Homo sapiens: one gene and its partners. The protein of the gene in region 2 purifies or fractionates together with the protein of the main gene of each other region. This does not show direct contact. Each region holds a gene or a part of one and is shown on either strand. Other genes may lie near its edges. The genes, in order: CUL7, GLMN, CUL4A and CUL2.

Region 1 (6,759 bases), on a different chromosome or scaffold from region 2:
TCTTACTTAGGGAAGGCACCAAGGAACCACATTCACTGTTGGCAATGGTGGCCAAAATAGAGACTCACTGGCAATGCCTTCATTCACCACGTCAAATGCTTCCATACCTGTTACTTGTCGCAGTCCCACAGTGACTGGGCCAGTTCCACAAACGAGGAGAATTAAACCCTGCTCGATAATCTGCCCAAGTTACAAACCATCTGGTGAGTGGCCAAGTTGGGCTTGGATCTCCAGCCTGCCAGATGAAAGCACTTCTGACCACACACCCTCTGAGAAGGGGCTGAGTGCCATCATCCTGCCTGGTCCTCTCAATCTCTGCCTAGAGGGGGTGCTAAGTCACACCTGACTCCCTCTGCCTTTCTCCCAGTCTACCATCCTCACCCTAACAAGACCCTTGGCATATCATGCGACAGCCTCAGTGCCAAGGGCTCCTTCTCCACCAGCAAGGAAAACCCTCCCACCTCCCCACTCAAATCTCTAGCAGTCGCCAAACACACACGTCATATAATCAAACTCTTGGGTTTTATTTCTGTAAAAGCTCCAGCTCTACCTTCCCCTGACCCCAAGTCTAGGGCTACCGGAAGGTAGAGAAGCTCTGGGTGGCAGTGCAGGAGGCATAGGGCACACCCCGGGAGCGAATCTGTAGGGTATGGAAGGTGAGGGGTGGGTTGGGGCCTGAGGAGCCTGGGTTCAGGGACTCAGTGTGAGGCTCCATGACAGTCACAGGGACTGCATAGGACAGCACCTGGGGCCGGTCGTCATGGCGTCTCAGCGTGCCCTTGCCCAGGAGGTGTAGGATGCAGGAGAGGACGTCAGTGCTGCTGCATGCAGACCCCTTACCAAGGCTGCTGACCAAACCCCTGGGAGGACACGGGCCCTTCTGCCAAGCCTCCAGCACCTGGTGTGGGGGAGGAAGGGAGAAGCGGTAGTTTAGAGGCAGCTGACCCCTCCTTGCTTGAGCTTCCACTCCAACCACCAGCTGCTAGGACAGGATGCCCCAAGGACACGAGGTACATCCCGACCTCACTCCTCACACTCCTACAGGCTACACAGTGAACCAGGTGCCTCACCACACGTGCACCCACCTTGTCCTGTAGACTGCTCCCCCAACCCCAGCAAAGATCTGTCACCCATTGTGCCCACCCCTGCCTACCAGACAGACAAGCTGGTCAATGTGCAGCCCCTCATCTCCATGGGCCTTGAGGATTCGGACGATGAGGCAGTTCAGAAGATTCCGTCTCTTCTCCAAGTTCTGGCCGTCTTCACCCTCAGCTTGCAGGTACGTCTGAGGTGGGATGAGCCGCACAATGTCCCATCTCGACCTGGGTTCCTTGCTGCCATCTCGAATCTTGAGGACCCCTGAAATAAATGCTGATCACTCACTCAGTGGAGAGCCCACGAGGAGCCTGGCCCTGCCTCAGAGCAGAGGCCCCTCTGGCCCTAAGTGCATACCTCCTGGTATATCCTTTTGCTCGTGAAGGTCCAGGGGGCCTCTTGAAGAGGTGAGGGGCCCAATCGCCTGATTGAGCATGTCTGCGGAGAGCCCTGAGAACGCCAGCAGACTCTCCACAGAGACCGCCTTCAGAGAACAGATGGGAGACATTCAGGGCCTCCCCAAGGAGTGGAGAGAAGAGGATGGAGGGAAGAAGCAGAGGGAGTCAAGGTTTTGGGAAGAGAGGCAAGGGACAAAGTGGGAGACAGGAGAGAGGTGCAGCGGGGCTGGGCCACCTTCAGGTCGTTGAGATACAGCAGTAGCCACATCTGCACGGTGGACACATGCAGGGTCTGGTTCCCAAACTGCAGCTCAGCCCAGCCCAGCCACGTCCACTGCAGTCGCCTCTGTGAGCCTCGCTCAAGGGCAGGGTGGCTCTGACCTGGACCAGGAAGGGGGAGGGAGACAAAGAGCAGGTGAAAGGAGGGAGTTGGTGTTGGAGGGAGGGTGCACGCTGGTCACGCTCTGTTTATCTCTGCAAGGCGTGTGACCCCAGCATTTATGGACACTGGGGCTTCTGGTCTGAGCTTCCAGATCTCAGCCTTCTCTGGGCCTGCCTCTATGGCAAGCCTCAGGATCTGGGAGCTATCCTATGCCTAGCCTGGTGCCAAGCAGGTTCTCATCAGTGCCTTCGAGGATTGCCCCATGTGTTTTTAGGGAGACAAAACCATGAAGGGAGGAAGGACTGGGGCTCTTATCAAGCTGGAATATTATGACAGGAAACAATGTCTCCCCTATTAGGAGGCGCCCTGACCACAGGTCTGAGCCTCTTCCCCCTCCTGTGTTGCTGCCAGCTCAGGGATCAGCCCCCGATGGGGAGTTTAGGATGACAGGTGACTGACCAGAAAAGAGCCAGACACCTACTCATATCTGGTGGCCTCAGGTGCCTCCTGCCTCCATCCTCCCCGTCACCCACAAAGAGATTCCCAGGTCTTATTTTAGAACAGAAAAAGCAATGGTCTGGGGATCAGGTATCTGACAGCACCTGCCACCCCCAGCCACCAAGCTCCTGCCCTTTGTTCTCAAAACCACTGTTTTTCCCATGGCCTAGGGAATTCTTATCCCTAAAGACTATCTCTCCCTGAATCTATAAAAACAAAAATTAAAAATGTAAATTAAAAGACCAACTCTTTTTTTTTTTTTTTTTTTTTTTTGAGATGGAGTCTCGCTGTCGCCCAGGCTAGAGTGCAGTGGCACGATCTCGGCTCACTGCAACATCTGCCTGTGGGTTGAAGTGATTCTCCTGCCTCAGCCTCCCGAGTAGCTGGGACTACAGGCACACACCACCACACCCGGCTAATTTCTGTATTTTTAGCAGAGACGAGGTTTCACCATGTTGGCCAAGGCTGGTCTTGAACTCCTGACCTCAAGTGATCTGCCTGCCTCGGCCTCCCAAAGTGCTGGGATTACAGGCGTGAGCACTGTGCCCAGCCAAAGACTATCTCTTTTTACATCAAGCCTCCCAACATCAGGGTCTGCCCCCAACCCCAGGTCCTTTCCTAGCAGCCCACCCTCTCCCCAGTCCCCAGTCCCTCTGCCTGGCTGCTCACTCTTGTTGTAGAAGTTGGAGTATCTGTTCAAAGTGCCCCTCAGGTAGGAGGGCAGGCAGGTTCTGGGGTTCAGTGTGTGGCAGATTGAGGCAACAGGCCAGGAGTGTCGGGACAGGACAAGCACAGACACTTCTGGCATTGCCCCTTCATAGTAGAGGTCCTCATTCTCCTCCTCTTCCTCCTCTCCCTCCGCCACATCCACCACTGCTGCTGCCCCAGCTTCCTCTTCCTTCTCGCTCTTGTGCTCCTTGCCACTGGCCCCAAGGCCCACCTGAAGGAGCACAGGGTTCCCAGATGCCATGGCCTCCTCCAGTCTGCTCCACGCCCCTCTTCCCCCTACCCTCTTATTTGCTTATCCCTTCCAAGGCACTCACCTGTATTTTCTTCTCTGTATCCTCCAGCTTCAGGAGTTCCTGATCCAGCTGCTGGAGCTGGTAGACGTGGAACTGGCGCTGCAGCTCCTTAGAGGTGCTCAGGCTCTGCAACATCTGCTGGGGGAGGCGGTTGGGGAAGCAGGGACCGATCTGCTCCAGCACGGCCCCCTCCAGCCAGCTCGAGACCACGCCCAGGAGACGGTCCGCCATGTAGTGCCTGCAGTGCATGCAGCCCGGGCCAAGCCTCAGTGTGGGCACCAGTGTGGCCCAGCCTCCCACTCCAAGGCTCCAGCCTGCCTCTATCCCAGACTTCCAGGCCCATGAGCTGGCTCTGCCACCATCATCCTGCCTCCCGCCAGCTCCCGCTCCTTAGGTCCACACTCACTGGTAATAATGCTCAAAAGTGGTGGCTATCTCCAAGCCGGAGAAAATCAGGACAGCTTGCAGGCATTGCTGCAGCTGTGCCAGCCTCTCCATTTCCTGGGCTCCACCGATCCGGCTGCCCTGGATCTGCTGGTCAATGTGCCGGGCGAACTGCTCACTCACCTGAGCAATGGCAGAGCACAGGAAAGCCATGAATGAGCGAGCAGAGCAGGTGAGTGGGGAGGAGGGATGAGGGTCTGGAAAGTAGATATGAATGCTGGCAGCTTTCTAAGGTGGTTGGTGCTTTCATACAACTATTTTATAAGATCATTAACCATTGTACAAATTAGCAATATTAACAATTATGGAAAGTGTCTTTTCACATTGTGTCTAAAAAATCAAACTAATAATAATCATTCAAAATGAGAAAATAAGACCAGGCGCAGTTCACGCCTGTAATTCCAGCACTTTGGGAGGCTGAGACAGGCAGATGGCTTGAACCCAGGAGTTGGAGACCAGCCTGGGCAACATGGCAAAACCCCATCTCTACTAAAAATACGAAAAAATTAGCTGGGCATGGTGGCACACGCCTATGGTCCCAGCTACCCAGAAGGCTGAGAGGACCACCTGAGCCCAAGAGGTTGAGGCCGCAGTGAGCTGTGACTGCACCACTGCATCCCAGTGTGGGAGGGAGTAAGACCCTGTTAAGAAAGAAGTAAAGAAAGAGAAAGAAAGGGAGAGAAAGAAAAAGAAAGGAGAGGAAAAGAGGGGAGGGAAGGGAAGGGAAAGGAAGGGGAAGGGAAGGGAAGGGGAAGGGAAGGGAAAGGGAAGGGAAGGGAGAGGTGGCTCATGCCTGTAATCCCAACACTTTGGGAGGGTGAGGCGGGCGGATCACGAGGTCAGGAGTTCGAGACCAGCCTGACCAATGTGGTGAAACTCCGTCTCTACTAAAAATACAAAAATTGGCTGGGCGTGGTAGCATGCACCTGTAATCCCAGCTACTTGGGAGGTTGAGGCAGGAGAATCGCTTGAACCTGGGAGGCGGAGGTTGTGGTGAGCTGAGATCGAGCCACTGCACTCCAGCCTGGGCAACAGAGCGAGACTCCGTCTCAAAAAAAAAAAAAAAAAAAAGGAAGAAGAAAGAAAGAGAGAAGGAAAGAAAGAGAAAGAGAGAAAGAGAAGGAGGGAGGGAGGGAGAGAAGGAGGGAGGGAAGGAGGGAAGGAGGGAAGGAAGGAAGGAAGGAAGGCAGGAAGGGAGAAAGAGAGAGAGAAAGAAAGACGGACACAAGGAGGTAAGTTACATACACAAAGATGGTCCTGATGCAGTGTCACTGATAAACTAGGACTGGAGGCTACACAAGGAGCCTCATGTTCCTGCTGCTCTGTACCCTGCTTTCCAGGGTGCTTCTTGCATTTTAGCTCATCAATTGTGGGGGGTTTTTTTGTTTTTTTCTTTTTTTTGAGATGAGTCTAGCTCTGTCACGCAGGCTGGAGTGCAGTGGTGCAATCTCGGCTGACTGCAACTGCAACCTCCACTTCCTGGGTTCAAACGATTCTCCTGCCTCAGCCTCCCAAGTAGCTGGGAATACAGGCATGTGCCACCATGCCTGGCTAATTTTTGTATTTTTAGTAGAGATGGGGTTTGGCCATGTTGGCCAGGCTGGCCTCAAACTCCTGCCCTCAGATGATCTGCCTGCCTCGGCCTCCCAAAGTGCTGGGATTACAGGCATGAGCCACCACACCTGGCCACTATTTATTTTTTTCAATTTTTTAAACTTCTTATAACATGGCTATATACTAACATATGTTCATCATAGAATGGGAATGGAAGGGTGGGTCATTTGGAGGAGGTGAGGAAGGGAGAGTTTGTCGGAAGAGACCCAAGGATGAGGCAAGGGTAGAGGCTTACGTGGGCAGCTTTGAGAAAAGGGAGCTTCAGCAAGGCTCCCGCACAGCCATTTTGCAGCGCCAGCAAGAAGGCTGCCCGAGGCCCAAACAGTTCAGAGCTTGAGTTCTGCAGAATATTAAAGTGCTCACAGTAGCGTGGCACAAAGTCATCATCCCGCCAGGATGAGGTCAGAAAATTGTTCACCTGGAAGGAAGGGGCAGGAGCATGAAGACACAACCCAACATGCCACCATTATGGTGTCCCCTCTCTCCCGCAGGCCTGCTCCTGCCCACCTGCTTCTCCACCACGGCCCGCCAACAGCGCGTCAGGTTTCTCATGATGCTGCTTGGAAGGCCCCGGGTAGCCAAGGAGCTCCAGTCGTGGCTTCTGTTTCTGCCTTCTGTAGAGACCAAGAAAGTGGCAGAGGCAAGGAGGGTGCAGCCCCTCCACTCCCAAGTCCCCATCCAAGGGGGTTCCCTGAGGCCTTTCCTGACATGCTGCCACCCAAAATGATGTTCATGGATGGAGGTGACACAAACCTGGAAGATGAACAGGCTGAGCCCATAGGGAGGGGAAGGATGGGGATGGACAGAAGCCTGTGGTGTACACATGGGGCCCAGGAAAACGCTCCTGACTAGAGCTCCCCACCTGAATCTCCACTACTCACTGGGCCGAGGAGTGGCCACCACAGGAGGGGGTGCCTCACAGGGCTCGACATGCACCAGCAGGTGAGTGAGACGGCGCACCCGCGAGAAGAAAGCTGGGCCGCGGCTCTGGGGGTTGAAGACAGCTTCCTGACACTCCAGGTACTGGTCCAGCAGCCAACCCAGGGGGCTAATGCCATCCTCATCTAGAGGGTGAGATAAACAAACCAAGGCACAGCCATGTCTGCAGGGAAGTGGGAGTGGTTGGGCTGAACAGGAGTGTGGAGATAGAGCAACTGGACGGAATGATACAAGGAAGGGGGGCCAGGTAGGGTGGTTTACGCCTGTAATCCCAGCACTTTGGGAGGCTGAGATGAGAGGATCGCTTGAGGCAGGAGTTCAAGACTGGCCTGGTCAACATAGCAGGACCCCATCTTTAAAAATAAGA
Region 2 (7,740 bases):
ACATAAGATTTATTATATTGGAGGTTACAAAGTTATCATAAACATGTATCAAAAACTAAATAAAATGTCCTATTTTAATAAAAAATAAGAAGGGTATAAGCCATTTGAACTACTGACTAAGAGATGTTATAATAATATATGATTAAAAAGTTTTAGGAATCCCCCAAATCCAATCAAGATGCCCTGGAGAGAAACACAGATCAACATGATTACACTGTGATATCAAGAAAGAAAACTTCTAATAAATAAGTAGCACTGCAAATGAAGAAAGAGTGTGTACCTAGAAGGAAGATGGTCTTTGTATTAGTCTGTTCTCATGCTGCTATGAAAAAATACCCAAGCCTGGGTAATTTAGAAAGAAAAGAGGTTTAATTGACATGCAGTTCCACATGGCTAGGGAGGCCTCAGGAAACTTAACAATCATGGCGGAAGGCACCTCTTCACAGGGCAGCAGGAGAGGGACTGAGTGCCAACAGGGGAAATGCCAGATGGTTATAAAACCATCAGACCTGGTGAGAACTCACTCCCTATCATGAGAAGCATGGGGAAACCACCCCCATGATTCAATCACCTCCACCTGGTCCCATCCTTGACACACAGGGATTATTACAATTCAAGGTGAGATCTGGGTGGGGACACAGAGCCAAACCATAGCCGTCTTCCTTATAAGGAGTATCCAAAGACACAAAATTTGGCAGGATGTTGCCAACACAGTGTCCCAGGAAAAAGTTATTCCTGATCCACAAATAAGATCCTTTTCCATTGTGGAGGATGATTTCTCAAACCATTGTAACTGGATGATACTGGCTAGTATAATGACATATCGTTTTCCTCCTGTTCTGATTCTATGCACATAAAATACTGTTTTAATTAAAATTTGGTTTTCCATACACATTTGGCTGGAGGAGAATGGGCTGATCACCCAAAATGAATATTTAGCCTGCTTGATATGTATATTTCTCATTGTAAATTAATGACTCAAACACCATTTTTGGACTCCCTAAACCAGAAGTAATTCTGTTTCTTCTAAAAACTCTTTACTTCAACTATAGCAATTATTTATTTTGCCTCATTATTGTTAGTTGTTTACATGTTTATGTTTGACCAGATGGTAAAAACCTTCAAGTATATGACTGTTTCTTTTCTTTTTTTTTTTTTTTTTTCTGAGACAGGGTCTTACTCTGTTGCCCAGGCTGGTCTCAAACTCCTGGGCTCAAGTGATCTGCCTGCCTTGGCCTCCCATAACGCTGTGATTACGAACGTGAGCCACTGCGCCTGGCCTAAATATTTCTAATTCTTTTTTTGTTTTCAGTTCCCTACTGTGAAAATTTAAGTAGATTCTTAAATGTTTGATGGATAAATGACTGGATGAATAGCATCATGTGATTATTCTCTTCCCAAGACTGAAAAGTAAACACCAAGATTGTACGCACCTTATTCTTTTCATTTTGAATAATTTCTAATAGCTGGTCTGTGTGCCCTTCTTCTATGCATCTTTGCCCAGCTAACTGAAATAGGCCAAAATCCTCTTCTTTAAAGTCTTGCTCTTCTAGGATTTGCTGGCAAAAAAAAAAAAAACCCAAAAAACAAACAAAAAAAAGTATATGCAAATAAAAATTAAATACAATAACTTCTTGATTTATCTATGAAAAAAGGAAATCTGTTTAAATTCTAGATAAATGTAACGTAAATAACACACGTATCAAAATTAGGATTACCCTAATAAATACTTTAATAAGTGACCTTGAAATCTACTGTACCAGTGAAATCTATGAAAAGGATCAGGATTAAAATGTAAAAGGTTATTTAGATAAGTATGTCACCTGGAGAAATAATCCAATCTGCCTCCCCCACTCATGCTCTTTACAGGTCAAAAAAAGCAAGGATTAAAGAAGATAAACAATTTGAGTGACCACAAATATAATTAAAAACAATCTGTGCCCTTCCCATATTTTGAAAGGTATTTAATTTTACAAAAATTAATACTTACACATCTCTTTATTATAGACTGAAGTTCCTCTACAGCCATTCTTATTTCTCCTAGTTTCGATGCTAAAATCTACAAATACAAAACACACTGTTAACTATCCGTGATATTACACTTAAGTATTCAAAAGTTATGTTTCAGTGTGATAAATTATTAGTAAATACAATAAAGAAAATGGAAAGTTTTTGTTGTTGTGTTTTTTGGTCCAATAGCATGCTAGGAGAAAATGTAAAGTTTTAAAGTTGAAATGTTATTACTGAATCTTAGTATGTTTGCCTAAGAAAATAAAGTGTTTTTTTAGAAGCCCTTATTGCATGTTTTAAGTTTTCTAGGAGCATAGTTTTGAAAGCTACTTTGAAGGAAAAAAAAACAAAAAAAACCTCTCGAGCACTCCCAAGAGGCGAGGCATATACGAACTAAAGGGCTTTTAAAAAGCAAAGCACTTCTTTTCTGAAAAAAAATTTCCAAAAGGTGGACCTGAAATCAAAATTCTAATCATCAGGGGATTTTTCATTTTTAATGTCTCACCTCACAAAAATTGGGGTGCAACACAAGCTTATCTATAGGGGGTGAAGATTCAGATGCCCTCCATTCCATTTCTCTCTAGGAGTTGCAGTCCCCAAAGTGATCAATCCAGCTAGTGAAATCACTGTATCACACGGAGACAAGACAACGGCGGCCTTCAGGAGGAGACCATCGCTTCTCCTGGCGGCAAGGCTCGGCCCCAAGCCCTCAGTAGGGGCGCGAGTCAGCCCGGTCCTCAGGGCAGCGCGCTGGAAGGCGAGTGAACACCCCAGCGCGCGTGCGGGCTGCATCAGAGGAAGCCATGTCTTCCGATTCCTGCTCGCCTAGGTGGGCAGGCTCCACCACCTCGCGTGGCCTAGTCGGCCCGCAGCACCAAGTCCGCCGCGGCTCACGGCCAACCGCGAGCCCTGGCCACCCTGAACCTCTCCACAACTCCACTTACCGGCCAGAACCCTCGCCTCTCCCAGCCGCCGCCACCTCCTCCGGCGTCTTAGCCCGCTCTTCTGGCCCCGCCCCGCGCTACGCGTAGGGAGGCGGGGCCTCGGGGCGAGACGCCGGAGCGTGTCCCCGTCCGGCAGACTACTCTCCCCCATGGCGGACTTCGCTGGGCCGTCTTCTGCCGGCCGCAAGGCCGGGGCTCCCCGCTGCTCTCGAAAAGCCGCAGGTAGGAGCAAGGATCTCTTCCCACTTTTGGACCCTGAAAGCTGGGCCCCGATCTCGAGTTATAGACCGCAGCGCGCGGGCGCTCCTGAAAGGCTGCTTCAGGGGAGGGGTTCTCCCAGGTAGAGTAGGCCGAAAGCTTCCCACCGCCGTCCGCACCTCCTGGGAAAGATTTCCTGGCCGCCCCTCACCCCTTTACGCCAGTGTTCCAAGATTTCCCTCACGCGGACTGTGGCCCCAGCCTCTGAGACAAAGGACAGTGGAGGCCCCGGGAACCCAGGCCTGGGGTCCCCGGGTTTCGGGGCAAGTGACTAGGGCAGCGTTGGCAGCTGGCCTTGAACCTAGGACCGGTCCTCCTTTCCAGATTGCTTGGGTGCCCAGTTCTTTAAGGTGCCGGACTCCCCTCTTCCCCCAGAGAGGACGTTTGGCAGACGGAGAGAGGTTTCCCCTAAAAGTACCCAGATCTCAGATTTTCAGGAGTGGTTAATTAAGCAACTATGATACAGAAGAAAATTCAATCCCCAAAGAGATACATTTTAACCAAGAAAAATTAGACAGTAATCAATTTGCAAAAACAAATTGCTCTCCCTTCCTATTTCATTTTGATTTACACACGATTGGACATAAAATATGTGGAAAAGAAGAAAAGGTGGTCTACAGTTTGTTATTTGTGTAGGAATCTATCTTGTACCTAATGTGTTTGTGTAGACCTGACCTACTGCCACCATGTGTAGCTTAACTGCGGGGATGCATTTTGAGAAATAAGTTGTTAGTCGATTTCATCCTTGTGTGACCATCATCGAGTGCACTTACACAAACCTAGATGGTACAGCCTACTTACACACTAGGCTATATGGTACAGCCTATTGCTCCCAGGCTACAAACCTGCACAGCATGTTACTGTACTAAGTACTGTAGGCAACTGTATATCTAAACATAGAAAAGGTACAGTAAAAATACAGTATTTTAATCTTATGAGACCGCTGTCTGTATGCTGTCCGTCGTTTACGGAAATGTCATTATGTAGCACATGACTGTATTTTTATTGTAGGTACTAAACAGACAAGTACTTTGAAACAAGAAGATGCTTCTAAAAGGTATGACAGCTACATGGACAACTACATTGGCATATCTACTTATCTTGTATTACTTGTACCAATTTTAAAACAATAATGGTTACCTTTTTTTTTTTAGAGAAAATTATCATGAGAGGGAAGGGAAAGATCTGGGAAGGCCTATAAATTCTCACATAGACTGTTACATTCCTCTACTCCAGGCTTTAAGAAAACCAAACTAAGCACTCAGACTGCTAGTGAAGGAATGAGTGTCTGTAGAAGGTGTTTGTTTTTCACCGCTTCAGGTACACTCTCCTTTTATTGCTTTATATGCCAGAGACTCACTCTCCAAGTTTCGCTGTCACTCCAAGAAACCTTTTCTGTTCTTTGTTACATCAAGTCCAGATTTTCATTAAAAAGCTGTCTTGTACTAGTTCTGGTTCTAAAAAGGCAAGATATTACCACATATCACACAGAGTTTCTAGAAGAGGAGTAGAATGTGAAGGGGATTAAAAGCATATGTAGCTATGATTTTTATTTTGTGAAGACTCACTAATCTTATATTGGCTTTGGTCTTAATTTACTCATTCTTTCAAAAATTATTTATTGAGTATAAGATATGTCGGACCTGTGTTAGGCTCTGAAGATATGGTGAACAGAATAGACACAGTTCTTGCCTAGTGGAACAGAGGAATAAATAATAATAAATTAATTAGTTAATTAACATAAACAAATACATAATTACAAATTGTGATAAGCACTATGAAGGAAAAGACTGTGATGTTACGAGAAGGAATAACGAAGTCTAATTTAGTTGGAGGTGGGTGGCAGGGAGGTTGGCTGTGAGTTTTCAGCGAAAGCCTTATGCTGAGACCTGCGTGCTAAGTAGACATTAACCATACAAAGAGTATATAAAGACTTATGTATGTGCAGTGCAAAAAGTAGCTTGTTTCCTTTTTGAAAAGTATTGGATCAAAAGTAACAGCATTAGAAAACAGAAATTTGGCCGGATGTGGTGGCTTATGCCGGTGATCCCAGCACTTTGGGAGGCTGAGGTGGGAGTGTTGCTTGAGGCCAGGAGCTCGAGACCAGTTTGAGCAACATAGTGAGACCTTGTCTCTACAATTAAAAAGAAATAAATATTTTTATTCAAAAAATTTTTTAAATATATTTAAATTTAAGTGGCAAAATAGTGAGTTAGGTTAGTATTGTATTTTAAAACATGGAATGTTGGACATGAAGCTTTTAAGTAGATTAAGTTTCTCTTTCAAATTTTAGGAAAGCTGAACTAGAAGCAGCTGTGAGAAAGAAGATTGAATTTGAGAGAAAAGCTCTACATATTGTTGAACAGCTTTTAGAGGAGAATATTACAGAAGAGTTCCTAATGGAGTGTGTATGTGTTAAGTTGACAAATTATTAGTTTTGTAGTATAACATCTTTAAATCTGTGCAGCATGAAACTTCTTTGCATTATTAGAATCTTTGAATTTGTTCTGAGTCATTAGATGCAGATAACAATCCATATAATTCATGCATTTAAAAATAAACAACTATCATGCATTCCTTGTATAATGACTTTAAAATGCACTAATGAAAAATAAGTACGTAACAAGGTGATGACACGTAATGTATATTTCAAAATTAATAAGAGTGGATTTCAAATGTTCTCACCACAAAGAAATGATAAATATGTGAGGTGATAGATATGTTAATTAGCCTGATTTGCTCAATGTATACATGTGTTAAAACATCACATACTACCCCACAAATATATACAATTATTATTGTCAATTAAAAAGCAAAAGAGGCCAGGCACAATGGCTCATGTAATCCCAGCACTTTGGGAGGCTAAGGCAGGCGGATCACTTGAGGTCAGGAGTTCGAGACCAGCCTGGCCAACATGGTGAAACCTCGTTTCTACTAAAAATACAAAATTAGCCAGGTGTGGCTCATGCCTGTAATCCCAGCTGCTCAGGAGGCTGAGGCATGAGAATCACTTGAACTCAGGAGGCAGACGTTGCAGTGAGCTGAGATCACACCACTGCACTCCAGTCTGGGCAACAAGAGTGAGACTCTGTCTCAAAATAAGTATATAAATAATAAATGGGAAAAAAGAAAAATGAGGATGGGGGAGAAAAAAAAAAAAAGAAAAAGCAAATATATTTTACCCTTAGTCATAGTTCTTTTAACCAGTCTGCTAATATCACTTGATTTTCTTCAATTTGTTCTAATGATTGCAATTCCAGTTTTCTATATTCTGTGTTGTGTTATTTTAAGTAACAGAAGAATATTATTTTTGTCAATGTAATTTCATCAATTTTCTTATTTCAAAAACCTGAAATACAGCTCATTTATGACTCAACATAAAACGGGAGAATTAAATTCCGCATTAAATTTTTTTTTTTTTTTTTTTTTTTTTTTTTGAGACGGAGCCTCACTCTGTCGCCCAGGCTGGAGTGCAGTGGCGGGATCTCTGCTCACTGCAAGCTCCGCCTCCCGTGTTCACGCCATTCTCCTGCCTCAGCCTCCCGAGTAGCTGGGACTGGGCGCCCACCATTACGCCCGGCTAATTTTTTTGTATTTTTAGTAGAGATGGGATTTCACTGTGTTAGCCAGGATGGTCTCGATTTCCTAACCTCGTGATCCGCCCGCGTCGGCCTCCCAAAGTGCTGGGATTACAGGCATGAGCCACTGCTCTCGGCCCGCATTAATTTTTTTTTGGCCAGGCACGATGGCTCATACCTGTAATCCCAGCACTTTGGGAAGCCAAGGCGGTAGGATCGCTTGAGCCCAGGAGTTTGAGACCAGTCTGGACAACACAGCGAGACCCTGTCTAAATAAAAATTTGAGAATAAAAAAATTTTGAAACAGCTTTACTACATTAAAATTTTGAATGGAAATTTCTCTTTATATTTTTGTAATCCTTAAGAGGGCAAATTAAAACTCAAAGCTTCTATTACAAAAACACTTCTTAGTGTAGTTGATAGATCTTTTTCTAAACAGGAATATGAACATGACAATTCATATTTTTATTGACACAGGTAACTGCATCAGAATCTGCATATTTGATGACACCAGAAAAGACAAAGGCAAATATGCTTCATTTGAAACATAAAACTTACATCACTCTCAATAAAAAGTATTTCTGTCTCTGTGAAAACAGAAAAACTTGTTAAAAGATCTCAAAGTTATGAACAAGAATCAAAATTATTTGATCATGAAGATGTCAAAGGAAAATATTTGATGTTAGCTTATAACCATCACCTCACCACTCTGTACAGATTTTTCAGAAGTAGGAAAATTTTGCACAAACTGTGTTCTGCAGTAACAATGACACTTTTGAAATACTTTGTTTTTAAAGATTATGCTTTAAAAAATAGGTAAAATTATATTTTATTATTTTGTGATTTAGTTAATTTTTTAAATAATACTTTTTCAAAAATAAAAGATACTGTTGTCATTTAGCTTGTGTATAGCTATAGCATCACTTCTTCCTCATGCCTCAGAATTATTT
Region 3 (7,024 bases), on a different chromosome or scaffold from region 2:
CTCACCTTCTCCCCCAAAGTTCTCCTGGAATGAGAACTCTTCTTCCCCAAGGCAGGCCAGAGAAAACTCAAACCCCTCTTGCCCAAAGCCAGCCATAAAGCCTGGAGATACTACTCGATGCTTCCCATGCCCTTTTGTGTAGGATCTGGATATTAAGAAGTTCTCTGAACTACCTTGCTGATAGTTAAGTCATAAGACTCTTGTTCCAGAGGTGTCCTGCCCTACACCTGGGAGGAAAGAACATTGCCCAGTGAGGCCAAGAAGAATCTGAACAGACAGGCCTTACTGGTTTCCCCGCTACTCTACTACTGTTAGATGGTACCCTTCTGTCCAGTCACATTGATAAGAGTTTGGGGGTCTGTCCCCTCTAAATCTCACGGTGAACTGTGATCTGCAGTGCTGGAGGTGGGGCCTGGTGGGAGGTGTTTGGGTCATGGGGGTGGATCCCTCATGAATGGCCTGGCGCCCTCCCTGTGGTAATGAGTTACCACGAGATCTGATTGTTAAGGAGTCTGGGACCTTCCCCCACCACCTGTTGCGCCCTCTCTCTCGCCTACTCCCCCTTTGCCTTCAACCTTGAGTAAAAGCTTCCTGGGACCTCATCAGAAGTTGCACAGACACAGGTGCCATGCTTGTATAGCCTGCAGAACCATGAGCCAATGAAAACTCTTTTCTTTACAAATTACCCAGCCCCAGGTATTCCTTTACAGCAATGCAAAACAGACTAACACACCTATTTCTACATGGCTGCCCATTCTTTATCAAACCTAAGCATAACAATGGACAGTCTTCCCTGGGTCTTTGGTCTTCATTTCTGAAGCCTGATGTGTTAAATAAAACTTTGATTAAATAAATTTGTTAAGGTTTTCTCCTCCTAATTTGTCTTTTGTTAAAGGAGCATTGGCCATGACCCTCATGATGGATAAGAAAAGGAATCACACTGTCCTACCACTGTAGCTGTGTGTCTTTCTTCCCTTCTCAGCTGACGAAATCATCATTCATCTTTACTTGATATCAGGCTTAAGGGACGCCTTTTCCAGGAAGTCTTCCATGATTGCAGGCTGGTCTCAGCCCTTTCCCTTCGCCTGGTATTAAATGAATGGTGCATGTATTGTATCTCCTGCTGATGTTAACTTCATTGAGCACAGAATTCTACCTCCGGCGTGCAAACCCTCCACTGAAGGGTTTAGTGTAGCTAAAGTAGTGGCTGACAAAGAAGGCCCTAAATAATGCCATTCCCAAGACTTCAGCACTGTCTACAATGGAAAGAAAGAACAACCAGACAAGAACCGCAGCTTAATAAGCCATAACTTCCAAAACAAGTGCCTGTGCTCATGGGCCCCCTGCAGGTCAGCAGGTGGACACAGGCTGCACTGGGAGGAGCCACAGAAGGTGACAAAAGTGGTCACTTTCTCAAGCACATTTCCAAAGACCATAAGAGCACTTTGATTTTGGACTGAGTGGGCTATTTTTAAAAACTCCCCATTCAACAATTCTTGAAGGCAACATATCTGTGCCTGGTAAGGGCATGACAGCGGGAGCGGACAGCATGCTTTCTGCACACTTACTTCTGGGGTTAAGTGCACTTCCATGGGCGTGTATGTTGGCCAGTAGCCCATTGTGAGTATGTTCACTGTGAGGTCTATAGGGCCTGAGTCACTCTGATTCTGCATATGCTAAAACAGAGAAATCCAAGACAATCATTTTGAGAAAGTAATAAAACATAATTAACCTAAAACAAAATAAACCGTGTAATTTTCAATATAAAGTTTCATCTGTGTTAGAATTTATCTCAGTCCCCAGAATGTATTCCATGAAACCCAATGCCTCACTAGGACTGCCTTTTTCCCTTCTTCAGGTGTCACCACCAGACTCACTGAAATAAAATTCTTGCCACACGTTTAGATCTTCTTTTTCTTCTTTTAAAATTTACTTGTGAAACGTTAATAGTGTAATTTTCTTCTTACATAGAGTGAGATTCATTCTATCTAATCTATTGAATCTACCTACCTTATCTATTTATCTATCTATGACAAGGTACTGCTATCTCTGTCTATGTATTATCTATCTATCCACCCATCCACGACAAGGTCTCACTCTGTTGCCCAGGCTGGAGCGCAGTGGTGCAGTCACGGCTCACTGCAGCCTCAAACTCCTGGGCTCAAGTGATCTTCTCACTTCAGCCCTACCCCAGTAGCTAGGACTACCTGTTCATTAAAAAAATTTTTCTTTTGTAGAGACTGGGTCTTGCTATGTTGATCAGGGTAGTTTTGAACTTCTGGCCTCAAGAACGTCTCTTGCCTCTGCCTCCCAAAGTGCTGGGATTACAGGCATGAGCCACCACACTAACAGATACTTTTTAAAAAGCCGCTTTACCTAAGAAACACAACTCACCTGCTTGAAATGAACCATGATGTCCTTCGAAAGCTCCATGTCCTTGAACATGCCTTCCAGCTTGCTGGTGAAGGCTGCACCGCACTCTGGACACAGCAAAGGAGGGAGTGAGATCGGGGTAACACACGGGGCAGCAACCCTCAGTTACAGGGGAGGAGCCCAGGCCCCACATACTTACCATGCTTGAGCTTTGACAACATAGACTTTTCAGCATCGACTGAGGCACTTTTCCCAACAAGGAGTCTTTTTGCCAAATCTTTTTTATAAAATGCTTCAAAGACATCTTTACCTATTTATAACCAGACGAGAATAATCAAGACATCAGAGAGTTGATAAGCAAATGTTAAACTTCAAACTTCAACTGCTGAAAACCCTTAAAAGTGTTTTTTTTTTTTTTTGAGACAGAGTCTTGCTCTGTTGCCCAGGCTGGAGTGCAGTGGCGCGATCTCGGCTCACTGCAAGCTCCGCCTCCCGCGTTCACGCCATTCTCTGCCTCAGCCTCCCAAGTAGGTGGGACTACAGGCGCCTGCCACCACGCCTGGCTAATGTTTTGTATTTTTAGTAGAGACGGGGTTTCACCATGTTAGCAAGGATGAAAAGTGTTCATTCTAATGCAAACTGGCTCTACTGATACTGACATTCTCATGCTAAACCTCCTCTGGGAAAGCAGGGCCTGTTTACACCTCTTGATTATGCAGCATTTTCTGAGTGCCCGAGTCTCACCGTGGATAAACCTGAACAGGATCATGATCTTGTCCAACGTCCGCTCCAGCTCCTCGTCTGTGGCTTCTTTGTTGCCTGCTCTTAACTTTGAATCCACATGCTTTGCTGTGAGCATAAACATATAGTAAATACTCTAAACTAGAAAAAGAGAGCATCTTCAATTTCTATTAGCAACATTGTACAGGAACATTCTGGAACCTTCCCAAAATGACTATATGACAAAAAAACAAATATCTGATTTTCTAAGGTAAGTACTTCTCAAGTCAAGTGAGAGTAAATACTTGCCAAAATTTTAATGAAGCCAGGACTGAATGTTTAAAGCAGGTTTAAATATCTTTCTTATCTTTAAATGCAATCTCTGAATTTCAAAATAAAATGACTTCAGCAAATACATGCTCAGGTTTCAGGACGTGACTGCCCCGGACGCTGGAGTGCCTATTTCTAGGATCTGGTGTCATGAATGCAGAGGAGACATTCTCAAAGAGAAAGACTTTCTCAGAGCATCCAAGGTGGCAACGCAGGGTGAAAGCATTTCTACTCGGGCTTCCTGTTTCTGAGGCTGCACAAGCCATCGTCAGGTGGCTTGGGAGGGAGGACCAAAGTCCCCATGTGATGGGAGAACCCAAGACTTCCAGAAGCCCAAACTCCCAAGAGCTCAACATCCCTTTGCTTTAGAGAAACCACAAATGATACAGAGGAACAAAAGCCAAAGTAAACTGCCTCCTGAATTCCTTCTGTTGCTGTTTTTGTTAGTTTTTTTCTTTTAAACATTTTGTAATGGAATATTCTGAACACACAGAAAAGCAGACAATTGCACAATGAGCTCCATGTTCCATCTTACATCTTCAGCAGTAATCAACAGTCAATCTAGTATCGTCGTATTTCAGCTCTCTTTGCCCCCTTTCTCCTTCGAATTAAAAAAAAAATTTTACTGACTAGAGAAAGCCTATGAATTCTGAAATATATTTTGATATTATTGTGAAAAAATTGTACAGCTTAAAAATAGTATTATCATTTGAGATCTCATCTGGTTTTATCCTATTTTAATATGGATTAGAGGATACAAAGATGGTGATCACCCCTCCCTTCTTTGGCGAAGTCAAGCATCATTTCTTTTCTAAATTCTTACCTCATCTTCCCTTATGGAAATGCCCTCCTCCACCCATGCATGCAGGTGTGTCGGTTTTTAAATTTGTGTCCTAATAAGACTTGATAAAAACGCTTTCCACACACCCCTTGAGCAGCTTGAACATTTTGGTTGATTTTGCCTTATTTTCCCATATTAAAAAATTGTCTAGAAATGGGTGAGACTGTCTCAAAAACAAACAAACAAAAAAAACAAATATTTTTCTACCGATCAGTTCTGCAGGCTTGTTGGGTCTCTTGTTGATGAACGTCTCAAAGGACTCCTTCATCAGGTTGACGAACCGCTCATTCTTCTGGAAGCAGACCTCGATCACGTGGTCCACCTTGTCCTTGAAGTCCAACAGGTCTTGGACCATGTCTTTGTCTTTCTCAGGATTGATTACGATCGCTGTTCCAAAAGTCTACAAAAGCAAATCAATACCAACTCAGCAACATGTTTACAATAGCAAACAGTATCTTCTCCTGCTATCATATAATCAGGATAGTTTAACATAAATTACTCTTAGTAGTAAATACTCAATAACTTTAAAAGTTTCACAAATTGAATTCACATTTCAAAAATTAAGTGAATACACTTTTTTTTGAGGCAGGCCCTCACTCTGCGGCCGAGGCTGGAGTGCGGTGGTGCAATCACGGTTCACTGCAGCCTCAACCTCCCAAGCTCAAGCAATCCTCCCACCTCAGCCTCCTGAGTAGCTGGTGCTACAGGCTCAGGCCACCACATCTGGCCCATCTTTTTAAAGTTTTGTAGAGACGGGGTCATGTTGCCCAGGCTGGTCTCGAACTCCTGGCCTCAAGCAATCCTCCCACTGTGATTTCCCAAAGTGCTGGGTTTACAGGCATGAGCCCCTGTGCTTGGTGTGAATATACAATTAAATACACAATTAATGCATTGGTCTTACGATTCTGTTTCTGAGAGAACTTACAAACGACTGGAAAATGTCCGTTGCTTTTTAAAGAATGTTTATGTGTAAGTTCCTCCAAGACAAGTTAATTCCTATTAATTCAATATACCTCTTGGGACTTCTTGGCTAGTTTTCCTTCTCCATCACTTCTAACCATGAAAAGCTCACTTTTTTAGTTTGTACTTTTTTTTTTTTGTTTTGAGATGGACTCTCGCTTTGTCACCAGGCTGGAGTGCAGTGGCGTGATCTCGGCTCACTGCAACCTCCGCCTCCCATGTAGCTGGGACTACAGGTGCACACCACCACGCCCAGCTAGAGACGGGGTTTCACCATGTTGGCCAGGATGGTCTTGATCTCTTGACTTCATGATCTGCCTGCCTTGGCCTCCCAAAGTGGTGGGATTACAAGCGTGAGCCACTGTGCCTAGCCTAGTTTGTATTTTTAATTTAAAACTGTTATATTAAACATTCCTAAAAGTCTGTGTAGGGCACTAATAAACAGTTAACATTTGATGATATAAACTATATATGCCGAAGAGGAACTGAATACAATGATTGGATTTAAAAAATTCGTCTCAATAGAATGCACATGTGCACTCACACATCACACACACACGCGAGGTAGCTGGCTGGTGGAAAGATGCCAAGAGAAGGCTGGGCGCAGTGGCTCACGCTTGTAATCCCAGCACTTTGGGAGGCTAAGGCGGGTGGATCACAAGGTCTGGAGTTCCAAGACCAGCTTGGACAATATGGTGAAACCCCATCTCTACTAAAAATACAAAAATTGGCCAGGTGTGGTGGCGGGAGCCTGTAATCCCAGCTACTCAGGAGGCTGAGGCAGGGAACTGCTTGAACCCAGGAGGCAGAGGTTGCAGTGAGCTGAGATCACGCCACTACACTCCAGCCTGGATGACAGAGTGAGACTCCACCTCAAAAAAAAAAAAAAAAAAAAAGATGCCAACAGAAAGGGCACAGACTCTCCCAGAGAGGGGCGGTGTGTGGCTAGCAGGTGTGGGAGGGACTTACCTCTTACTCTACACCCTTTGGTGCTAACTGCATTTTGAAATAATGCACATACACTACAAGGCCCAGCTTTATTTTGATAACGGCATGTGGAGTTGAATATAAACTACTATTTTGTTACAGTATAACTACTTATTGCTGACACTCAGGGGTGATGGTCACTCACTGATTTTTATTACCCAGACTGGAAACTGCAAAGGTGAACTTTTCCTAGTTTTTAGCACACATTCCCATCCCCTGAAGACTGTCTCACTGGCAAAAAACCTAAATCTTCAGTAGCTTTATGGCCAATTTAGTGTGACTCAGTTATAAGTTCCAATTCTATCATTGTACGAGACCTTGTGGGGAGGGGTGCTGTGAGTGCTGGCTTTCCACAGCTGGACTGATACATGACTTCAGGTCTGATTATTCCATAAAGCAGCATGTAAGCTTTATCTTTTTTATTTAACGGAAATCTTTATTCAGATAATGACAGATTTGCATAATAGTAAAAATAGCAAAGCAATCCCAGTGTCTTTATTTCCACAGTTTCCTCCAATGGCAACGGTTTGCGAAACTACACAACAGTGTCTCAGCTGGGGTACTGACATGGCAGCGCACCCGTCTTTTTCACATGGCCCAGTTTACTCGTAACTCATCTGGGTGTGCACATCTAGACCTCGGCCGAAACCCCGACTGTTCCCGCAGAAGGCTACCTCCTGGGGCCTTTTATAACCACACACCCTGCCCCATCCCTACACCCTGGTAACTTTTCATCTATCCTCCATTTCTAAATTTTGTCATTTCCAAAATGTTATGCAATAACACGTTAAGTATCTGTGATTGGCTTTTCTT
Region 4 (7,024 bases), on a different chromosome or scaffold from region 2:
TTATTTGGAGGTTAAGGGTGCAATGTTTTTTGTTGCACTAAGGTTTGACCCACAGAGCTCTAAGTACTCCATAAACAACATTTCCATCATGACTTTCTGGCTTTAGAATTCCTATTTTTATTTATTTATTTATTTATTTATTTATTTATTTATTTATTTATTTTTGAGACAGGGTCTTGTTCTGTCACCCAGTGCAGTGGTGTGATCCTGGTTCACTGCAGCCTTGACCTCCTGGGCTCAAGTGATCCTCCCGCCTCAGCCTCCTGAGCAGCTGGGACTACAGGCACACACCACTGCACTGAGCTACTTTTTTGTATTTGTAGAGATGGGGTTTCACTATGTTGCCCAGGCTGGTCTTGAACTCCTGAGCTCAAGCTTCCACCAGCCTTGGCCTCCCAAATTACTAGGATTACAGGCGTGTGCCACCGCACCCAGCCTAGAATTTCTAGTAGGTTTTTTACAAAAACAAATGAGTTGGGGAAAAAAGAGTGAACAGACATATGGTGTGTGCCAAAATGTATACTGCAGGAAAACATCTTGAAGTCTCAAAAAGGGTGACACGGTGGGGAGTAGGGAATGTATTCATAATACAATAAGTTACAGAAGCCATTTGCACCCAGGTGTGGTGGCTCACACCTGTAATCCTAGTACTTTGGGAGGCTGAGGTGGGAGGATCACTTGAGCCTGGGAGTTTGAAAACAGCCTTAGCAACATAGACAGACCTGGTCTTTAAAAAAAAATAAAATTATAGTAGCTGGGCCCTCTGGTAACATGCGCCCGCAGGGAGTCCCAGCTACTCAGGAGGCTAAGGTGGGAGCTTGGCTTGAGCAAAGGAGACTTCAAGGTTACATTAAGCTACAATGGCACCACCACACTCCAGCCTGGGCCAAAAGACCAAGATCTTGTCACAAAAAAGCAGCTACCTGCTTCCAAAAATAAACCCACTGCACCAGAATAAAAGACCCCTCTCTGCAATGAACTTTAGACTCCCATAAGACTGCACAGCCTATACTTTGTTTCTTAAGTTTTCACATCGCTCTTATCAGCTTGAAGTTTAACGCCATTTTCACTTGCTTTCTCATTTTTTGTTCAATAATCTAGTCAACGAATTTAAGAAACTGACATTTTTAAAAAAAACTATTCTCATATATGTATCCCCGATCTCAGGTAAATTAGAGAATTTGAATTTCTGAGTCCTTCATGACTAGGCAAGCCCATCGTGTATGAATACTAGACAAAGCTAGAACCAACCAGCCTTTACACAAATTATCAAAACATTGAGAACAAATTTTTTGGCTGTGTGCAGTGGCCCATACCTACAATCCCAGCACTTTGCGAGGCCAAGATGGGCAGACTGCTTGAGCCCAGGAGTTCGCAGCCAACCTGGGCAACATGGTGAACCCCGCCTGTACAAAATACAAACAGATCAGCCAGGTGTGGTGGCATGCACCTGTAGTCCCAGCTACTAGGGAGGCTGGGATGGGAGGATCACTTGAGCCCAAGATGTGACCGCACCACTACAATCTACTGTATTTGCTGACTGCTATATAATACATTAAATCCTGCCTATGTCCTGACACTGCTATAGAAGACACAGGCATGGAAGAATAATTAAAAAGGGGATACAGTTATGGCAGATGCATATCAATTAACCCTCTAGCAACTTTCTTGACACCTCCTGTTTACAATCCCAAAGAGAGCCAGTGAGTTGGATCAAGTTTGTAATCCCAGCATTTTGGGAGGCCAACGTGGGAGGATCACTTGAGCTCAGGAGTTCAAGACCAGCCTGGGAACACAGCAAGACATCATCTTGACTGAAAAAAAAAAAAAATTTGCCTGCAGTGAGTTATGATCACACCACTGCACTCCAGCCTGGGCAACAGAGCCAGACCTTGTCTCTCAAAATAAAAAGTTCCGATATATGCTACGACAAGGATTAACCTTGAAGATATTACGCTAAGTCAAATACACTAGACACAAGGTGAAAAATATCTTATGGTCCTATTTAAACAAAAGTATGTATGTGGGCAAATTCATAAAGACAGAAAGAAGGATGAGATGTTATCAGATGCTGGGGGAAGGGGAAATGGGGAGCTACTGCCTAATGGTTGTACAGTTTCTGTCTAGTAACGAAAAAGTTTTGGAAATGGTGGTTTTGGAAATGGTGGTGAGGGTCACAATGACACTGTAAATGCAGTTAACACCACTAAACTATACCCTTAATGACGGTTAAAATGGTAAATTTTATGTCATGTATGTTTTAAGTGCTTAAAAACTAGATCACAGGTACAAAGTTCTGATGTCAGAGAAGTATCTGAATCTCACTGCAAAATGCTCTCTAAAAATTTTTAAATGGATGCATTCTAATCAAAATAATACTTGGTACTATGATGACAAAATACTATTTTTGGTTCAGACAGACTTTTATCAAATAAAAGAGAAATATCTTGAGATAAAATTTTTCTGAAGGCTCAGGACTACTTGGGGATCTTTCTCTTGATGTCACATTATTCATTATTTTGGTAACTATACACTTACATAATTACAAAGGTATCTTTGGCTGAGCATGGTGGCTCATGCTTGTAATCCCAGCAGTTTGGGAGGCCAAGGCGGGCAGATCACTTGAGGTCAGGAGTTTGAGACCAGCCTGGCCAACATGGTGAAACCCCATCTCTACTAAAAATACAAAAATTAGTCGGTGTGGTGGCAGGTGCCTGTAATCCCAGCTACTCAGGAGGCTGAGGCAGGAGAATCGCTTGAACCCAGGAGGCAAAGGTTGCAGTGAGCCAAGATCGAGCCACTGCACTCCAGCCTGCATGAGAGCAAGACTCCATCTCAAAAAAAAAAAAAAAGAAAGAAAAAGAAAAAAAGAAAGCTATCTTCTATTTCCCACCGTCAGAAAATAGCAGTTATAAATAAAGGGGAAAGGCAAGCATTAATCCTGTGGTAATGAGTTGTAATCAAAGGTATCATTTACAAACTCATGGTTTTGAATACACAAACACACATATACATGCAGATAAAAAGATATAAACATAGATGTTTGTGTATGCATGGTTGAATATACATATATTTCTAGCTCTGTTCACTGAGAAGGGCCTAGGAGGAATGACACCACAGTGGCAATGGGCACACATAGAACTTAGATCTTGGTTTCTAAATATCATTCTCCAAAAAAAGGAACCAGAGCTCCTCCTTGGAAAAGTGATTGATTCCAGGGCTGAAGCAGGAAAAATACAAGTTGAACCTAGAACACCTATGATGTCAGAAAATAGAAGGTGCTTTCCCCCCACAAAGAGGGTGGGGGCATATCGAAAGGACACAAGTTAAACTAAAGGTCAAAACTGGAACAAATCAGAGCAACAAAATAATGAATGATAGGATTAGATTATAAACCATAGGCGGGTCACAGTGACTCATGCCTGCTGTAATCCCAACACTTTGGGAAACCAAGGCAAGAGGACTGCTTGAGCCAAGGAGTTCAAAACCAGCCTGGAGCATAGCCTGTACTTTCTCTCCTTCAACTGAATTAAAACAAGGCTGAGATATTTTTAAAAATTTACATATGGCAAATCCATGTTTCATTCTTTGAAAAGCAACCTACAATAGAGAAAGACTAAGTCACTGAATTAATAGATGTAACTAACATTATTTATAATGTTAAACTATATAAAAGAGGCCAGGCACAGTGGCTCACACCTGTAATCCCAGCACCTTGGAAGGCCAAAGAGGGCGGATCTCTTGAGGTCAGGAGTTCAAGACCAGCCTGGTCAACATGGCAAAACCCTATCTCTACTAAAAATATAAAAATTAGTCAGGTGTGGTGGCAGACACCTATAGTCCCAGCTACTTGGGAGGCTGAGGCAGGAGAATCACTTGAACCCAGGAGGCAGAGGTTGCAGTGAGCTGAGATCGCGCCACTGCACTACAGCTTGGGTGACGAGTGAAACTCTGTCTCAAACAAGCAAACAAGACACAGTATCAGTCTGAATTTTTAATTCTCCAGAATAACAAAGCTTAAAGCAAAAGGAAATATTCCACCTCTCCTCCTCCAAAAGAAAAATCAACAGGGTTCAAGGCACCCCGGAAGTTTCTACAGATCCAACACCACAATCTTAACCTAACACTACTACTGTCTCAAAACTTTTAAGAATCAAAGGGATTGTCTCCAATAAGCCTTTCCCAATGAAAAGCCAAATATAAAGTACTGATATAGAAATCTATACATTCTTAAAGGTAACCCAAAGATTATGCTAACTGCAATATGACAGATACGTTACCAGTAAGATTCAAACCCAGGCACAGAGCCAAATCACTCTGAATAGATATTGTGATTAACTGATTACTGAGAGAGGGTTCAGTCATACATCTCATAGATCAATAACTTGTTATAAATCTCATAACATTCCAAATCGCTGCTTGTTTTTCCAAGATTTAACATGAGCCAGTCATAAGTCCTCATAATATTAAGATTCTAGGGCTGATCCTGTCATCAATTTACTTAAAAACAACTGATAGTTGGACAGGCCTGGTGGCTCACACTTGTAATCCCAGCACTTTGGTAAGCCGAGGCAAGTGAATCATGAGGTCAGGAGTTCAAGACCAGCCTGGCCAACATGGTGAAACCCCGTCTCTACTAAAAATACAAAAAAATTAGCTGGGGGTGGTGGTGGGCGCCTGTAATCCCAGTTACTTGGGAAGCTGAGGCAGGAGAGTCTCTTAAATGCCAGAGGCGGAGAATGCAGTCAGCCGAGATTGTGCCACTGCACTCCAGCCTGGGTGACAGTGTGAGACTCCATCTCAAAAAATAATAATAATAAAAAATAACTGGCTGGGTGTGGTGGCTCACACCTGTAATCCCAGCACTCTGGGAGGCTGAGGCAGGCAGATCACAAGGTCAGGAGATTGAGACCATCCTGGCTAACACAGTGAAACCCCGTCTCTACTAAAAAAATACAAAAAATTAGCCAGGCATGGTGGCGGCTGCCTGTAGTCCCAGCTACTTTGGAGACTGAGGCAGGAGAATGGCGTAGACCCAGGAGGCAGAGCTTGCAGTGAGCTGAGATCGCGCCACTGCGCTCCAGCCTGGGCGACAAAGCGAGACACCGTCCCAAAAAAAAATAAAAATAAAAATAACTGTTAGGGCCAGGCGCGGTGTGGCTCACACCTGTAATCCCAGCACTTTGGGACACTGAGGAAGGCGGACCACAAGGTCAGGAGATCAAGACCATCCTGGCTAACACGGTGAAACTCCATCTCTATGAAAAATACAAAAAATTAGCCGGGCATGGTGGCAGGCGCCTGTAGTCCCAGCTACTCGGGAGGCTGAGGCAGAATGGTGTGAACCCGGGAACCAGAGACACAGCCAGACTCTGTCTCAAAAAAAAAAAAAAAAAAAAAACTGATAGTGCATATGAAACATTGCTTTCAATCACAGCCAGACATTTTTCCAGAATACACAAAGAACAGGCAGATAAGGTAGAACACAAAACAAACAGTGCAAACTTTTGTAAAGTCTCACAAAAAGAAACAGCTTTTTACAGCGAGGGAGGAAGGGCATAAGGGTTGAAAAACGGTTGGGTACTATGTTCAGCACCTGAGTGACGGGATCATTGTATCCTAAACCTCAGCATCACACAATATACCCGGGTAACAAACCTACGTGTGTACCTCCTGAATCTAAAATGAAAGTTGAAAAAGATAAAAATAAAGAAACAAGCAGCCTGGCCAACATAGTGAAACCTTGTCTCTACTAAAAATACAAAAATTAGCTGAGAGTGGTGGAGGGCGCCTGTAGTCCCAGCTCGGGAAGTGGAGGCTGCAGTGGGCTGAGATTGAGCCCCTGCACTCCAGACTGAGAGACTCTGTCTCAAAAAAAAAAAAGAAACAAGAAACAAGGCCGGGCACAGTGGATCACGCCTGTAATCCTAACACTTAGGGAGGCTGAGGTGGGAGAATTGTTTGAGCCCAGGAGTTCGAGACCAGCCTGGGCAACACAATGAAACTCTCTTAGTTCTGTCACCCAGGCTGGAGTATAGTGGCTCACTGCAGCCTCCACCTCCTGGGTTCAAGTAATCCTCTCACCTCAACCTCCCTAGCAGCTGGGATTACAGGCCTGCACCACCACACCTGGCTAATTTCTGTATTTTTTGTACAGACAGGGTTCGCCATGTTGCCCAAGCTGGTCTCAAGCTGCTGGGCTCAAGTGATCCACCCACCTCAACCTCCCAAAGTGCTGGGATTACAGGCCTGAGCCACCGTACGTGGCCGGAAACAGCTTTTTAAACAACTCCACACCTGTAGGTCAAAAACTTAACGAGACCAGCCTGGCCAACATGGTGAAGCCCCATCTCTACTAAAAATACAAACTCCAGCCTGGGTGACAGAGCGAACACCATCTCAAAATAAATAAATAAATAAATAAATGAACTTAACAAGGGCAGGGACCAAATCAGAAAATGCTGCAGTACTCCACAGTTTTATCCTCTTTCTACATTCTCTGTGTTCTCATCCTATTTCATAACTTAACTACTATTTAACACTCTAAAAAATACAAATGTCAAAGTAAAGTGTACTACTGTTTCTGCAAAGTGGGAACAATATTTGCTTATATGTCCACAAATATTTTTTTCCAAGGAGATCTAAGAAACAGCTAACAATGTTTGGCTCCAAGGAAAGCTGGATGACAAGGGTACAAGAAGTGGAGGGAGATTTTCATTCTATTCCCTACTGACAATTTTATATTTTGGTTTTCTGTTTGTTTTAGAGACAGGGTCTCACTCTGTCACTCAGGCTGGAGTGCAGTGGTGCAATCACAGATCACTGCCACTTCCAACCTGGTCATCTGGCCTCAGCTTCCCAACAGCGGGTACTACAGGCGTGCGCCACCACGCCTGGCTAATGTTTTTTAAATTATTTTTTGTAGACATGGGGTCTCACCATGTTGCCCAGACTAACATCTTAAATTTTGAGCCATGTGAATACAGTTTTTGTTCAAAACATTAGTATACCAATAAATAAATGC

The links.
Region 1: the proteins of GLMN (region 2) and CUL7 purify together in Homo sapiens (affinity purification with mass spectrometry; 5 studies listed by BioGRID and IntAct, with this or other methods). This does not show direct contact.
Region 3: the proteins of GLMN (region 2) and CUL4A purify together in Homo sapiens (affinity purification with mass spectrometry; 6 studies listed by BioGRID and IntAct, with this or other methods). This does not show direct contact.
Region 4: the proteins of GLMN (region 2) and CUL2 purify together in Homo sapiens (co-immunoprecipitation; 5 studies listed by BioGRID and IntAct, with this or other methods). This does not show direct contact.

What each region holds. Positions count from the first base shown.
Region 1 is NC_000006.12:43,037,114-43,043,872, forward strand, and holds the end of CUL7 (cullin-7), read right to left. Parts: exon of another isoform or gene 6,518-6,759; coding exon 6,335-6,517; exon of another isoform or gene 6,068-6,334; coding exon 5,961-6,067; exon of another isoform or gene 5,945-5,960; intron 5,872-5,944; coding exon 5,689-5,871; intron 4,012-5,688; exon of another isoform or gene 3,963-4,011; coding exon 3,802-3,962; intron 3,634-3,801; coding exon 3,417-3,633; intron 3,314-3,416; coding exon 3,043-3,313; intron 1,875-3,042; coding exon 1,729-1,874; intron 1,580-1,728; coding exon 1,453-1,579; intron 1,372-1,452; coding exon of another isoform or gene 1,360-1,371; coding exon 1,154-1,359; intron 899-1,153; coding exon 575-898; 3' UTR 504-574; downstream 1-503. UniProt on the Homo sapiens protein: Core component of the 3M and Cul7-RING(FBXW8) complexes, which mediate the ubiquitination and subsequent proteasomal degradation of target proteins. Core component of the 3M complex, a complex required to regulate microtubule dynamics and genome integrity.
Region 2 is NC_000001.11:92,295,971-92,303,710, forward strand, and holds the start of GLMN (glomulin), read right to left. Parts: upstream 3,018-7,740; 5' UTR 2,955-3,017; exon of another isoform or gene 2,585-2,954; coding exon of another isoform or gene 2,516-2,584; intron 2,060-2,515; coding exon of another isoform or gene 2,030-2,059; coding exon 1,991-2,029; intron 1,560-1,990; coding exon 1,434-1,559; intron 1-1,433. Other genes in the region: putative RNA polymerase II subunit B1 CTD phosphatase RPAP2, read left to right, coding at 3,104-3,176, 4,224-4,269, 5,506-5,620.
Region 3 is NC_000013.11:113,240,608-113,247,631, reverse strand, and holds part of CUL4A (cullin-4A), read right to left. Parts: intron 4,665-7,024; coding exon 4,472-4,664; intron 3,223-4,471; coding exon 3,118-3,222; intron 2,684-3,117; coding exon 2,573-2,683; intron 2,481-2,572; coding exon 2,395-2,480; intron 1,677-2,394; coding exon 1,569-1,676; intron 1-1,568. UniProt on the Homo sapiens protein: Core component of multiple cullin-RING-based E3 ubiquitin-protein ligase complexes which mediate the ubiquitination of target proteins. As a scaffold protein may contribute to catalysis through positioning of the substrate and the ubiquitin-conjugating enzyme.
Region 4 is NC_000010.11:35,080,318-35,087,341, forward strand, and holds part of CUL2 (cullin-2), read right to left. Parts: intron 1-7,024.